3 linked regions of the Homo sapiens genome follow. The protein of the gene in region 3 interacts with the protein of the main gene of each other region in a pairwise test. Each region holds a gene or a part of one and is shown on either strand. Other genes may lie near its edges. The genes, in order: PEX16, TVP23B and SLC35H1.

The links.
Region 1: the proteins of SLC35H1 (region 3) and PEX16 interact in binary tests that used the Homo sapiens proteins (3 or more experiments, as listed by UniProt).
Region 2: the proteins of SLC35H1 (region 3) and TVP23B interact in binary tests that used the Homo sapiens proteins (3 or more experiments, as listed by UniProt).

What each region holds. Positions count from the first base shown.
Region 1 is NC_000011.10:45,911,157-45,914,976, forward strand, and holds part of PEX16 (peroxisomal biogenesis factor 16), read right to left. Parts: intron 3,529-3,820; coding exon 3,448-3,528; intron 3,313-3,447; coding exon 3,160-3,312; intron 3,048-3,159; coding exon 2,975-3,047; intron 2,783-2,974; coding exon 2,663-2,782; intron 1-2,662. UniProt on the Homo sapiens protein: Required for peroxisome membrane biogenesis. May play a role in early stages of peroxisome assembly. Can recruit other peroxisomal proteins, such as PEX3 and PMP34, to de novo peroxisomes derived from the endoplasmic reticulum (ER).
Region 2 is NC_000017.11:18,779,029-18,782,848, forward strand, and holds the start of TVP23B (Golgi apparatus membrane protein TVP23 homolog B), read left to right. Parts: upstream 1-2,154; 5' UTR 2,155-2,265; coding exon 2,266-2,277; intron 2,278-2,285; exon of another isoform or gene 2,286-3,521; intron 3,522-3,820. Other genes in the region: FBXW10 (F-box/WD repeat-containing protein 10), read left to right, coding at 1-270.
Region 3 is NC_000020.11:46,362,407-46,366,006, forward strand, and holds the start of SLC35H1 (solute carrier family 35 member C2), read right to left. Parts: upstream 2,020-3,600; 5' UTR 1,965-2,019; intron 817-1,964; exon of another isoform or gene 680-816; intron 1-679.

The sequences.
Region 1 (3,820 bases), on a different chromosome or scaffold from region 3:
CCTCCACCAGCTCAGCTTCGGGGTGGCCGCTGACCCACAACACCTCCTCCCATTCCTCTTTCCCCTTCCACCGACATCCAACACTGAAGGCCTCTAGAGGGTCGCATGTGGAGCAGCGCCCTGGCAGTATGGTGGAGGGTCCAGGGAGGACAACCCCACCCTGCCCTCGGGAAGCCCCCCAGTCTGGCAGAAGTGCTGGGCTGCATGGAAACCTCACAAGCCACCAATGAGAGTAGTCAGGACCTTGGTAGGGGACACAGTACTGAAGAGGGCACATTTTGGTTCAGGGGAAGGGGCAAGGCCCAAGGCCCTGATTTTTAAGACAGGAGGGTTTTCCACAGGGGAACTCGGGTGAGATGAGGATGCTGATGACAATACATAGCGCTACGTGCTTACTACACCCCACGCACTGCTGTACGCGTTAGTCACTGAACCCCTACAAAGTGGGTACTGTCATCATCCCCATCTTACAGGTGAGGAAATGAGGCACAGGCGCATCAAATAACTTGCCCAAGGCTACACATCTGGAAGGCGGCCTGACTCCTTATATGTCTGTCTGAGCAGCAAGAAAAGAGGAAGCCTGGGGGCCGGGTGTGGTGGCTCATGCCTATAATCCCAGCGCTTTGGGAGGCCAAGGCGGGCAGATCAATTGTGGTCAGGAGTTCGAGACGAGCCTGACCAACATGGAGAAACCCCATCTCTACTAAAAAATACAAAATTAGCCGGGCGTGGTGGCGCGCACCTGTAATCCCAGCTACTTGGGAAGCTGAGGCAGGAGAATTGCTTGAACCCGGGAGGCAGAGGTTGCGGTGAGCCGAGATCACGCCATTGCACTCCAGCCTGGGCAACGTGAGTGAAACTCCGTCCCAAAAAACAAAAGAAAAGAAAAGAAGAAGGCTGGCTGGGTGCAGTGGCTCCACCTATAATCCCAGCACTTTAGGAGGCCAAGGCGGGCCTTTGTTTCCCTAAAGGACAGGGAGCAGGGTCCAGAGAGGTGCCAGGGTGTGGTCCAGAAGGAGCAGCCTTACTCTTTTTTCTGTTTTAAAAAAAAGATGGGTCAGGCCAGGCGCGGTGGCTCACGCCTGTAATCCCAGAACTTTGGGAGGCCGAGGCAGGCGGATCACGAGGTCAGGAGATCGAGACCATCCTGGTTAACACGGTGAAACCCCATCTCTACTAAAAAATCAAAAAAAATTAGCCAGGCATGGTAATGGGCGCCTATAGTCCCAGCTACTCAGGAGTTGAGACAGGAGAATGGCATGAACCCGGGAGGCAGAGCTTGCAGTGAGCCAAGATTGCACCACTACACTCCAGCCTAGGCAGGCAACAGAGCCAGACTCCATCTCAAAAACAAACAAACAAAAAAAGACAGTGTCTCGCTCTGTCACCCAGACTGGAGTGCAGTCGCGCGATCTCGACTCACTGCAACCTCTGCCTCCTGGGTTCAAGCGATTCTCCTGCCTCAGCCTCCTGAATAGCTGGGACTACAGGCGTGTGCCATCACACCTGGCTAATTTTTGTATTTTTAGTAAAGACAGGGTTTCACCATGTTAGCCAGGATGGTCTCTACCTCCCGACCTTGTGATCCGCCCGCCTCGGCCTCCCAAAGTGTTGGGATTACAGGTGTGAGGCATCGTGCCTGGCTAAACTATGCCAGTTTTGTTTTTTTTTTTCTGTTTTGTTTTTTTGAGACAGGGACTTACTCTGTCACCCAGGCTAGAGTGGGATGGAGTGATCATAACTCACTGCAGCCTCAGCCTCCTGGCCTGATCCTCATGCCTCAGCTTCCTGAGTAGCTAGGACTTACAGGCGCACACCACCATGTCTGGCTAATTATTATTATTTTTTTTTTTTTTTTGTAGAATTGGGTTGCCCAGGCTGGTCTCGAACTCCTGGCCTCAAGCCAACCTCCTGCCTTGGCCTCCTAAAGTGCTAGGATTATAGGTGTGAGCCACTGCTGCCCAGCCTATGCCAGTTTTTAAGCTATTATTAGGTCCTAGACAAAGGGGGTCCCGGGAGCCTTGTCTGCCTCACAGTCCCAGCCACTGCACAGGGTTTCCCCCTGTCAGACTGTGGTCTAACCTCAAGCAGTCATAGTGGCAGGCCTGTGGAAGAACTAGTCCCAAGCTGCCCCCTGCTCAACCCAGCAGGCCTCTCTCAGGCTGGGAGCTCTGGACCCTCGCAGGTGACTGAGTGGGGGCTGGGCCAGGCAGGGAAGGCCAGGGGAGATCCTGGGTTTGGGATCTAGCTCTACCACTGGCTAGCTGGGTGTCTTTAAGTTGCCCAACCTCCTTGAACCTCCAGGTCCTCCTCTGAGAAGTGAGGATAAGCCAAACTATTTGGCAGGAAGAAGTGGAAATGAGCTAGAGGCCATGGGCGCCCGCCCTGTCGCCATCCCTGTGGGCCACCTGGCAATGCCCTCAGCCCTGCCCTCAGTGCCTCTCCTGCCAACCAATGTTTAAGTTCCTGCTCAAGTGGCCTGATGGCCCAGAGAGCTCTGCGGGCGGGACTGGGCTGGCATCTGGTGACTGCCACCCGGACAACACACAGTGCTTGGTGAACCCTGGATGAGGCGTGGGGAAGGGAAGGCGCCAGCAGGGACCGGAGCACCAGTGCCCGCTTGCCAGCCCTCTCCCTGGCTCAGGGTGTCCTGGGTGCTTACTCGGAGAAGCGGTCATAGAAAGGAGAGCGCAGCAGGTAGTAGAGCAGCAGGATGGTCCGGCGCCGCAGCTCCCGCCGCTCCCTCCGGGTCAGGCCCTTTCTGTCACTCAGGAGGCTCAGGCTGGGAGGCAGGGAGGACATGGTCAGGGCCAGGGGCATGATCTAGGCCCACGGAAGGGGAGGAGCCATGGGCTGGGTGTCCAGAGGGGCAGCAACAGGAGGAGCAGGGGCCGCTGCCACCCCGCCTATGTGAGGCCAGGATTATAGCAGAAAGCCCAGTGGAGAGTGAAGCCCCAGGCAGGCCCAGGCTCACCTGGTCACGTCCACAACACCAGCCAAGAGCCAGGGTTTCCACGACCTCTGACCCCACAGGCCCAGGCTGAGCACTGACGGCCAAGGCGTCAAGGATGTCTCCAGCACAGGGGCCTTGCTCAGCACACTCCCCACTCAATCCCCAGCCCACAGTGCCAGCCCTATCCTGCCCCGCGCTAAGGATACAGTGCAGCAGCGGCCGGGCAATGTACAAAAACTCTGCGATGGTCTCCTGCAGCCCCAGGGGGGTGGGGGTCGCACTCAGCTCCTCGTGATGCTGCTGCTGCCGTCCCTCCCGCTGCTGGGGAGCTCCCCAGTGCCTGGAGTGCAGGGACGGCGCTAGAACACAAGGGCGGCAGATGAGCGAGCCAGGCCCAGGCTGGGGCAGGGGAAGGTGGCTGCTGACCAAAGCCAGTCCCTCAAGCCCAGGCAGACAGCACCTAGGTGCCCAGGCCAGCCACATCCTCCACTTACTGTTCTGGAGGGTTCGCACCACCCGGTTTGACCGCTTCCCCACGTAGGACTGCTCATGGTTGCCAGGGCTGTGGTCACCATCTAGCAGGGATAGACAGAAGGCCATACAGTCAGAGGGACATGCTTCCAGCGGAGCCTGCAAAGAACGTGTGCAGTGAATGCTCAGGAGCTAAGGGGAGAACAGATGAGCTTGTACTATGGCAACAGCTGAGTCAAGGGAACTACAAGCAGGGTGGCGGCTCAGCACAAGACCCGTCCACAGAGGAAAGCACTCTGCAGCCCTCCCTAGCCTGGGGAAAGCTCAGCATAGCTGTGGCCAGAGCCAGCCTCCCGGAACCCATGGACAGGCAAGGCAGGGAAGGCCCAGCCTGAC
Region 2 (3,820 bases), on a different chromosome or scaffold from region 3:
TCTCTTAAGAAAGAACGGCCTCGCATCTATACAGCCCTTGATCCTTTTAGAGTGAACACTGAGTTCGTGCTGTTGACCGTGAAGGAGGAGAAGGAGCACCAGGAAGCCAAGATGAAGGAATATCAGGCCAGGGAGTCCACTGGAGTGGTTGATCCAGGAAAAGTCAGCAAAGCTGCATGGATCAGGAAGATCAAAGGCCTGCCTATTGATAATTTCACGAAGCAAGGGAAAACAGCGGCCCCTGAACTTGGACAAAATGTATTTATCTAAACCAGCCTTGGGAAATTACAATGTTTTACAATAAACAGAAAGCCAAGCGGATGTTGCTATTTGGCCTTTTTTTTTTTTTTTTTGACTGTTTCTTCCTGGTAATTAATGTGGGAACTCCCAGTTATCTTCCTCTGAGCCAAATATTTGATATCATCAAAATAAGAAAACAGAAGGAGGTTGGGCGAGATTAGCATCTGTAGTCCCACTGAAAACAATTTAGTGAGCATTAGGAAAGCCCAGTTTCGTTGATGGGGGATGGGGAGATGATCACTGGAAATTAGATACCATTCATCACTACCAATTTAGTGCTATTAGTTCTTCTGGCAAATGAAGTTATGGGATTATATCAGGGTCATGCATTGGTGTTTTCTGGTATTTTTGCACAGAAGCCTGATAAAACCCATTAAGAATTTAAAAGGGGAAGCCCTCAGTGGGGTGGACCTGTTGCATTTGACAACATTGAGCTTTTCCTTCTCAGGGCTAACTCCTAAGGAAGAGAATTAGCATATTTATCCTCTGTACAAAGAGGGCCAGTAACATCAAGTGCATTGAGGTTTCTGCTTAAACCTTTGGACTATGGTGCAGGGACCAGGTAATTTAGAAGAGTGCAGCCCACTACAAGAGCTATGGCCCATTAGAAAGTTCAAGCCTTGACCAGGTGCGGTGGCTCACGCCTGTAGTCCCAGCACTTTGGGAGACTGAGGCGGGTGGCTCACCTGAGATCAGGAGTTTGATACCAGCCTGACCATCGTGGTGAAACCTCGTTTCTACTAAAAATACAAAATTAGCTTTAAAAATTAGCTATTAAAAATTAAAAGACGATAATGAATTCAAACACAATGTCTTAAAAAACCAAAAACTACGAAAAACAACACAAAACTCCACAGCACTGAGTGGACCACTGAAAACCTGCCATGGGCAGGCTGGACGTACAGGCCCCAAATTTGTTAGCTTTTCATCTCCAAGGGCACGAATGCAATTGTGCTGCCGAAATGTCTTGCCTTTAGAAACGCGTGTGTGTGTTTTCCCCCTTTCATTATTAGAATATCAGGTTTTAAATGGCACTGGCAATCAGCCACGTAAAATTTGTGATTTTAATAGAATCCCTTCAATTAAGGACACGTGCAAATACCACTATGCCAACAGCAGTCTGACTCGGCCAGACAGATAGGATATTGTCATCATCACCGCTTCAAAGATGACTTAACGCCCCTTAATTTCACATCCTTTGTTCAGGCAAGATCACAGCATGAGCGGCTGGACTTAAAACTGTAGTAAGTATAACGTCTCCCATTTACTAGATACTTACACTGTAAGGAAACCATTATCACCCCCACTTTACAACTGATGAAAGAAGTACATAAAGGTTGGTGATATGATTGGCAATAGAGTTCCCAGGCGCCTAAGCTCCAGGGCGCAAGGTCTCAACTCCTGGCGTCTAAGTTTATACCTCCCATAATAATACCGTCCATTAGTTACTCTAGAGTCCTCCTGCCTTGTTTTTCTTAACGTTTTACTTCTCTGCAAGAACATATTTTAAAAAGTTGCTTCTACAATTTAAAGTACAAAAGTAATACTGTACAGGAGTAAGTCTTTGTAAAATATTTAAAGAAAATTATATTATACAATAAAACCCCGCCCCCCTGCATTCGGGGCAGCGACACTGGGGGAACGACTTTAGAATTTGCATTGGGTGGACAGCAAATACTTCCGTAAAACAGACCATGAAGCTTTCCACTTAGAGCCCACTGTGGCCCCAATACCTTTCCCTTTCGCTCCTGCTCCAGGCTCCGCCTCCGCCGTGTCCGGGCCGCTCGCCCCGCCCCCGCTCGCCCCGCCCCTGGATTTGCTCCCTCAAAGCGGAAGTGAGGCCGGACTGAGGCTCTTACAGTGGTCCCTGCTGGCCCTTGGTGACGGGTCGCCTCAGTTCCGACCCGGACCCGTACGCTGCTGCGCTGACGTGGCTCCCGGAAGTAGGGCTGGCGTAGGGCCGCCATGTTGCAGCAGGTGAGGGGCTGAGGGCTCGCTGGGAGGGTGGCGGCTCCTGGGACTGGCTCTGCAGGTTCCGTGGGACTGGAGCCCGCGTCCCCCGCGCCCGCTACTCGAACTCGAGGAGGAGCGGGGCGGCCGGGAGTGGAGGGCTGTGGGTAGTTGTCTGAGGAGGGCTGCTGGGGGTTCTGAGGCCGCTGGGGGCGGCGTGACCCGTGCGGCGCAGAGCAAGTACTTCTTGCGGCTGTGGGGACGCCCATTGTTAACCAGCGCGAGTGGGGGTCTCTCTTTCCTCAACCCTTATTGCCGGGGTGGAGTTGAGGAGGAGCGGCCTGCGGGCCTCTTAGCTTCCTGACACCCAGGGGTGCGATGCTATTTTGTAGGAATCGGCGACACCGCCAGAGCCTCGCTTTCAAATTGCTGTTTCCAAACTAATGTTGTTGGTGATTCTCTCCTTTGTGCTCTTAGAGTTAATTGTAGTCCACATGTTGGCAACCAGAGACTCGTAAGATTAATAATATTTTTAGAAAAAACTACTGTTTATGGTCACTTAGATTGTCTTAAGTGTTTTTTTCTTTCGGTTCACACAAAATTTGTTGAGGGATTACTATGACTCAGACACGGTTGTAGGCCCAGGGATAGGGTTGTGACCAGTACAGACAGGTTTCTTGCCCCGTATTTTTGGGTTAGGGAAGTGGGTTCTAGGAGATGGGGGTTGGGTGGGGAGACACGATAAATTGTATAACCAAAGATATTTTCAGATAATTGCAAAGGCAGGGTGATGAAATAACAAGTGTCTGAGGATAGGACAACTAAGATTTATGGTCAGGAAAGACTGCTTATGAGGAGATGCCTTGAGTGGAGAAAATCTAATAATGGTTAAATTCAGCTGTATTACAGGAAAGGTGTCCCGATCCAGACCCGAAAAGAGGGTCCTTGGCCGGGCGTGGTGACTCAGGCCTGTAATCCCAGCACTTTGGGAGGACGAGGTGGGTGGATCATGAGGTCAAGAGATCGAGACCATCCTGGCCAACTTGGTGAAACCCTGTCTCTACTAAAAATACAAAAATTAGTTGGGCGTGATGGTGCACGCCTGTAGTCCCAGCTACTCGGGAGGCTGAGGCAGGAGAATCGCTTGAACTGGGGAGGCTGAGGTTGCAGTGAGCCGCGGGCCACTGCACTCCATCCAGCCTGGCTACAGAGGGAGACTCCGTCTCAAACAAAACAAAAAAAGTCTTGGATCAGGCAAGAAGGAATTCAGGGTGAGTCCACAGTGCAAAGTGAAAGCAAGTTTATTAAGAAAGTAAAGGAGTGGCTACTCCATAGAGCAACCTGGAGGGCTGCTGGTGGCCCATTTTTATGGGTATTTCTTAGTGGTATGGTTAACAAGGGGTGGATTATTCATTCCTCCCCTTTTAGATCATAGAGAGTAACTTCCTGATGTTGCCATGGCATTTGTAAACTGGCATGGCGCTGATGGGAGTCTAGTAGTGAGGACGACCAGTGGTCACTCTCGTGGCCATCTTGGTCTTGGTGGGTTTTGGCTGGCTCCTTTATTGCA
Region 3 (3,600 bases):
GCTTCCCTCCATCTTCCTAACTGTAACTTGGGCAGCATGGTTTAGTGCTTAAGAGTGTGGGCTTTGGAGTTAGACACTGAGAATCAAATCCTGGTGTCCCTACTCACTACTGTGTGACCCTAAGTTACTTGACCTCTGGACTCAGTTTCTCCAACTGTAAAGTGGCATCAGGTACAGCATTAAATGCTGGCTCATGGTAGAGGCTTACTCCCCTCCTGGTCCCCTTAACAGTGAAACTTCCCCAGAGGACCCCGCACTGCCAGTCCAACTCCTTCACCCCCTGCTCTCACTTCAGCCCATCTCCACTGCTCCAATGAGTCACCACACCCTCCTCCCTGCTGCCCCTTCGAAGGCTTAGTCTCTATTCTTTTTGTTGTTGTTGTTGTTTTGAGATGGAGTTTCAAGGCTGGAGTGCAATGGCGTGATCTCGGCTCACCGCAAACTCCGCCTCACGGGTTCAAGTGATTCTCCCGCCTCAGGCTCCCGAGGAGCTGGGAATACAGGCATGTGCCACCATGCCCGGCTAATTTTGTATTTTTAGTGGAGACAGGGTTTCTCCATGTTGGTCAGGCTGGTCTCGAACTCCCGGCCTCAGGTGATCTGCCCGCCTTGGCCTCCCAAAGTTCTGGGATTACAGGCGTGAGCCACCGTGCCGGGCCGGCTTAGTCTCTATTCTTACCTTACACAATGGATCACTTCCTCCTCCTAGAAAAAACCTTCTCTTGGGTGCCACGATACCACATTCTCCTGGTTTTTCTTCTGCTTTTCTGGACTCCTTATTGGTCTTTTTTGCTGGCACCTTCTTGTCAACTCAATCTATAAAAATTGGGTGCCTAAAGCTTGGAACCTGGCTTCTCTTCTCTCTTAAATCTTACCCTACATAATCTCATCCTACCCAATCCACTTGCCAATGATTTCTAAATTCTTTACATCAGCCCTGACCTTTTCTGTATCAGACTCATATATCTAACTGCCTATTTGGTAGCTGCACTCCAAATATCTAAAACTTAAGATGCCCTAAGAAGATTTCGTAATTATTTCTCACGCTCCCAATCTATCCCAAAGTCATTTAGTAAATGCCAGCATAATACACTTGGTTACTTAAGCCAAAACCAAAAATCTATGATGAAGTCATCTTTGACCACTTATTTCTGTCATTTCTCAAATCCTGCCCTGTCAGTTCCACTTTCAATACACTTCTTGACCCCTCTACTTCTCTTCCTCTCCATTCCCACTACCACAGTCTAAGCCACAATTATCTTTCACCTGCTGACTGCCACTGGTCTAACTGGTCTCCCTGTTTCCTCTTTCGCCCCTAAGGCCTGGAATCTATAAAGCAGCCAGAGAGATGGCACACGAAACAGATCATGCCCTAAGGCTAAGCCCAGCTCCTCAGCCTGGTCCACAAGGAAGGCCTCTGTAACCTCATTCTTCTGCCACTGGTCCCAGCACCCGCCACAGCGGCCCCCTGCCACGTGTCAAACACATCAAACCTGTGTTTTTCTTTACTTGCTGCTCTTCCTGCCTTCAGCTCCCTTCCGCAGACCTCCGCTTGGCTGAATACTTTCTCCAATGCCCCACCCCTCCCAATCCTCGTGGCACTCCCACCTCTGACGTTTCCTTGTTTGCTCACGTGTTTACTGCCCGCCCCAATCCCACCGCGGGAAGCAGCCCCTCAGAGGGCAGGGCCGTGTCCGATTCCGGCCCGGGTCCCGCACCCAGGACGTCGCAGGTGCTCAGGAAATACCAGATGAGCCGGCGTCCGGCAGGTGCCTTGCAGGAGGGCGCTTGGAGACCCCTGCCCCCTCCACAGACGGCGAAACTGAGGCCCGGGGAGGGGCAGGGGCGTGGCGTGCCCCATGTCAACCCGCGCAGATCCCGGGTGGGGAGCCCGCTTCCCTTCTCCAGCCCCGGCCCCCCAGCCTCTGGGAGTGCGCCGGGAGGCCGGCCGCACACCCACTCACCTCGGCCCTGGGAGCTCCAGGCCGGAATCTCCCCACCGGAAGTGCGAGGCCGGATGCCGCCGCCGAACCGCGGCACGGGCGGTAACTTCCGCCGGAAGCTACCCAGGGGCTGGGCGGAGCCGGGGCGAAAAGGCGGGGCGGGGCAGCACGGGGGCGGGGCGTCTGTTGTGGTCGGGTTCTGAGGTGGTCTGGTCTTTCTGAGGTACAGCGTAGTTTTGTCCTCCGCGAAGTCCCTCAGGCTCAGAGCACAGCCGTGTAATTGTCTGCGTCTCTCCCGCGCTCAATCAGGGGCTTGCTTTGGAACCCCGGTGCCTGCTAGTGTTCTGCATACAGTGAGCATCCAAAAAATGGTAACTTGTTTACTTTTACTGAACAAATTGTTTTTCTTATGTCCAGTCTAATGCTGGGCAACCATGGAATGAACCACGAAGATAAGTATCTCATGGGCTTTTTCTTCTGGGAGCTCAGGCCAGCTGGGGCCATTACAACTTAAAACTTGGGCGATCCAGAAGTAATACGAAACATTTGTGAAATATTTTCTGTATGAAACTTTCTAAGAATTATCTCAACTTCAATAGGTTGAGTAGGGAGAGAGCATCCCAGATAGAGGAAATGGGAGAATCCTAAAGGAGGGTGAGAAAGCTCCAGCCGTGCCTGGGGCTCACAGGTTGTTTGTAACTGTGGTGGTTAAAGTAGCCAAGAGGCAGGTTGCAGTGGCCCCAAAATGCCAGCCTAGGGAGTTCAGATTTTCTTCATCTTGCGGGATGGATTAAAAGGGCAGCATTTGCAGTCAAGAACATTAGGCCAGGGCAAGCTAGGGTTGCACATTCAGACCCAGTTTTGTGCCTTTCGCCCTCCTCTAGCCTCCTCCTGGGCTCTCTGGCAGTAAGACCAGCTGCAAACATGGATCCTTACAAGTGACTCAGCTGGGATCCCTGGCCCCTCTGAACAGAAGGCTCAAGGCCAGAGTGTAAGCAGTGTTTTATGCAAACTGCGGCTGTCACCGCCGCCAGCTGGCATCATGCAGGCATTAGTTCATTCAGTGCTTACCAAGCACCTACAATGGTACCCATCACTGCCCAAGGTCTTGGCTTTATTCAGTCCTCAGGCTTGTATTGCATGCACTTTCTATGCCTTTTGAAAGAGCCTGTCCTCACACCCTTCTCTCTCAGAGGCAAGAGATCTATTTTCATCACCACCCTCATTTAAGTCTCCCAGCTACCAAGGCCAAGGTTTGGAGCAACAGCCTAAAACACCAGCTGGAAGGCTGGGCACTATGCACAGGCAACACACAGGGTAAAGAGCGTGTCTTCTTTGTAAGGCACAAGTACTCGAGCTGTTCCCTGGCTGTGTCCCTGGCAGGGAGAAGAGGGAGGATGTGTTCATGGGGGTGTACAGTATGCCTTACCTTGCTGTACCCAGCAGGGTTGAGCAGAAAACGCTTCGTCCCAGTGCAGCAATCTGTGAACACTCTTAACCAGCAGGTGTGTGTCTGTGTGTGTGTATGTGTGGGAGGAGCGAATGATGAGGAGGAAGGGACTCTTGGAAGGTGACTAAGGGCTCCAGCTGGAGCTCTCCAGAGTCTCCCAGATACATGGAGATCAAGTCTTGTCAAGGTGAAATCTTCACCATTGGG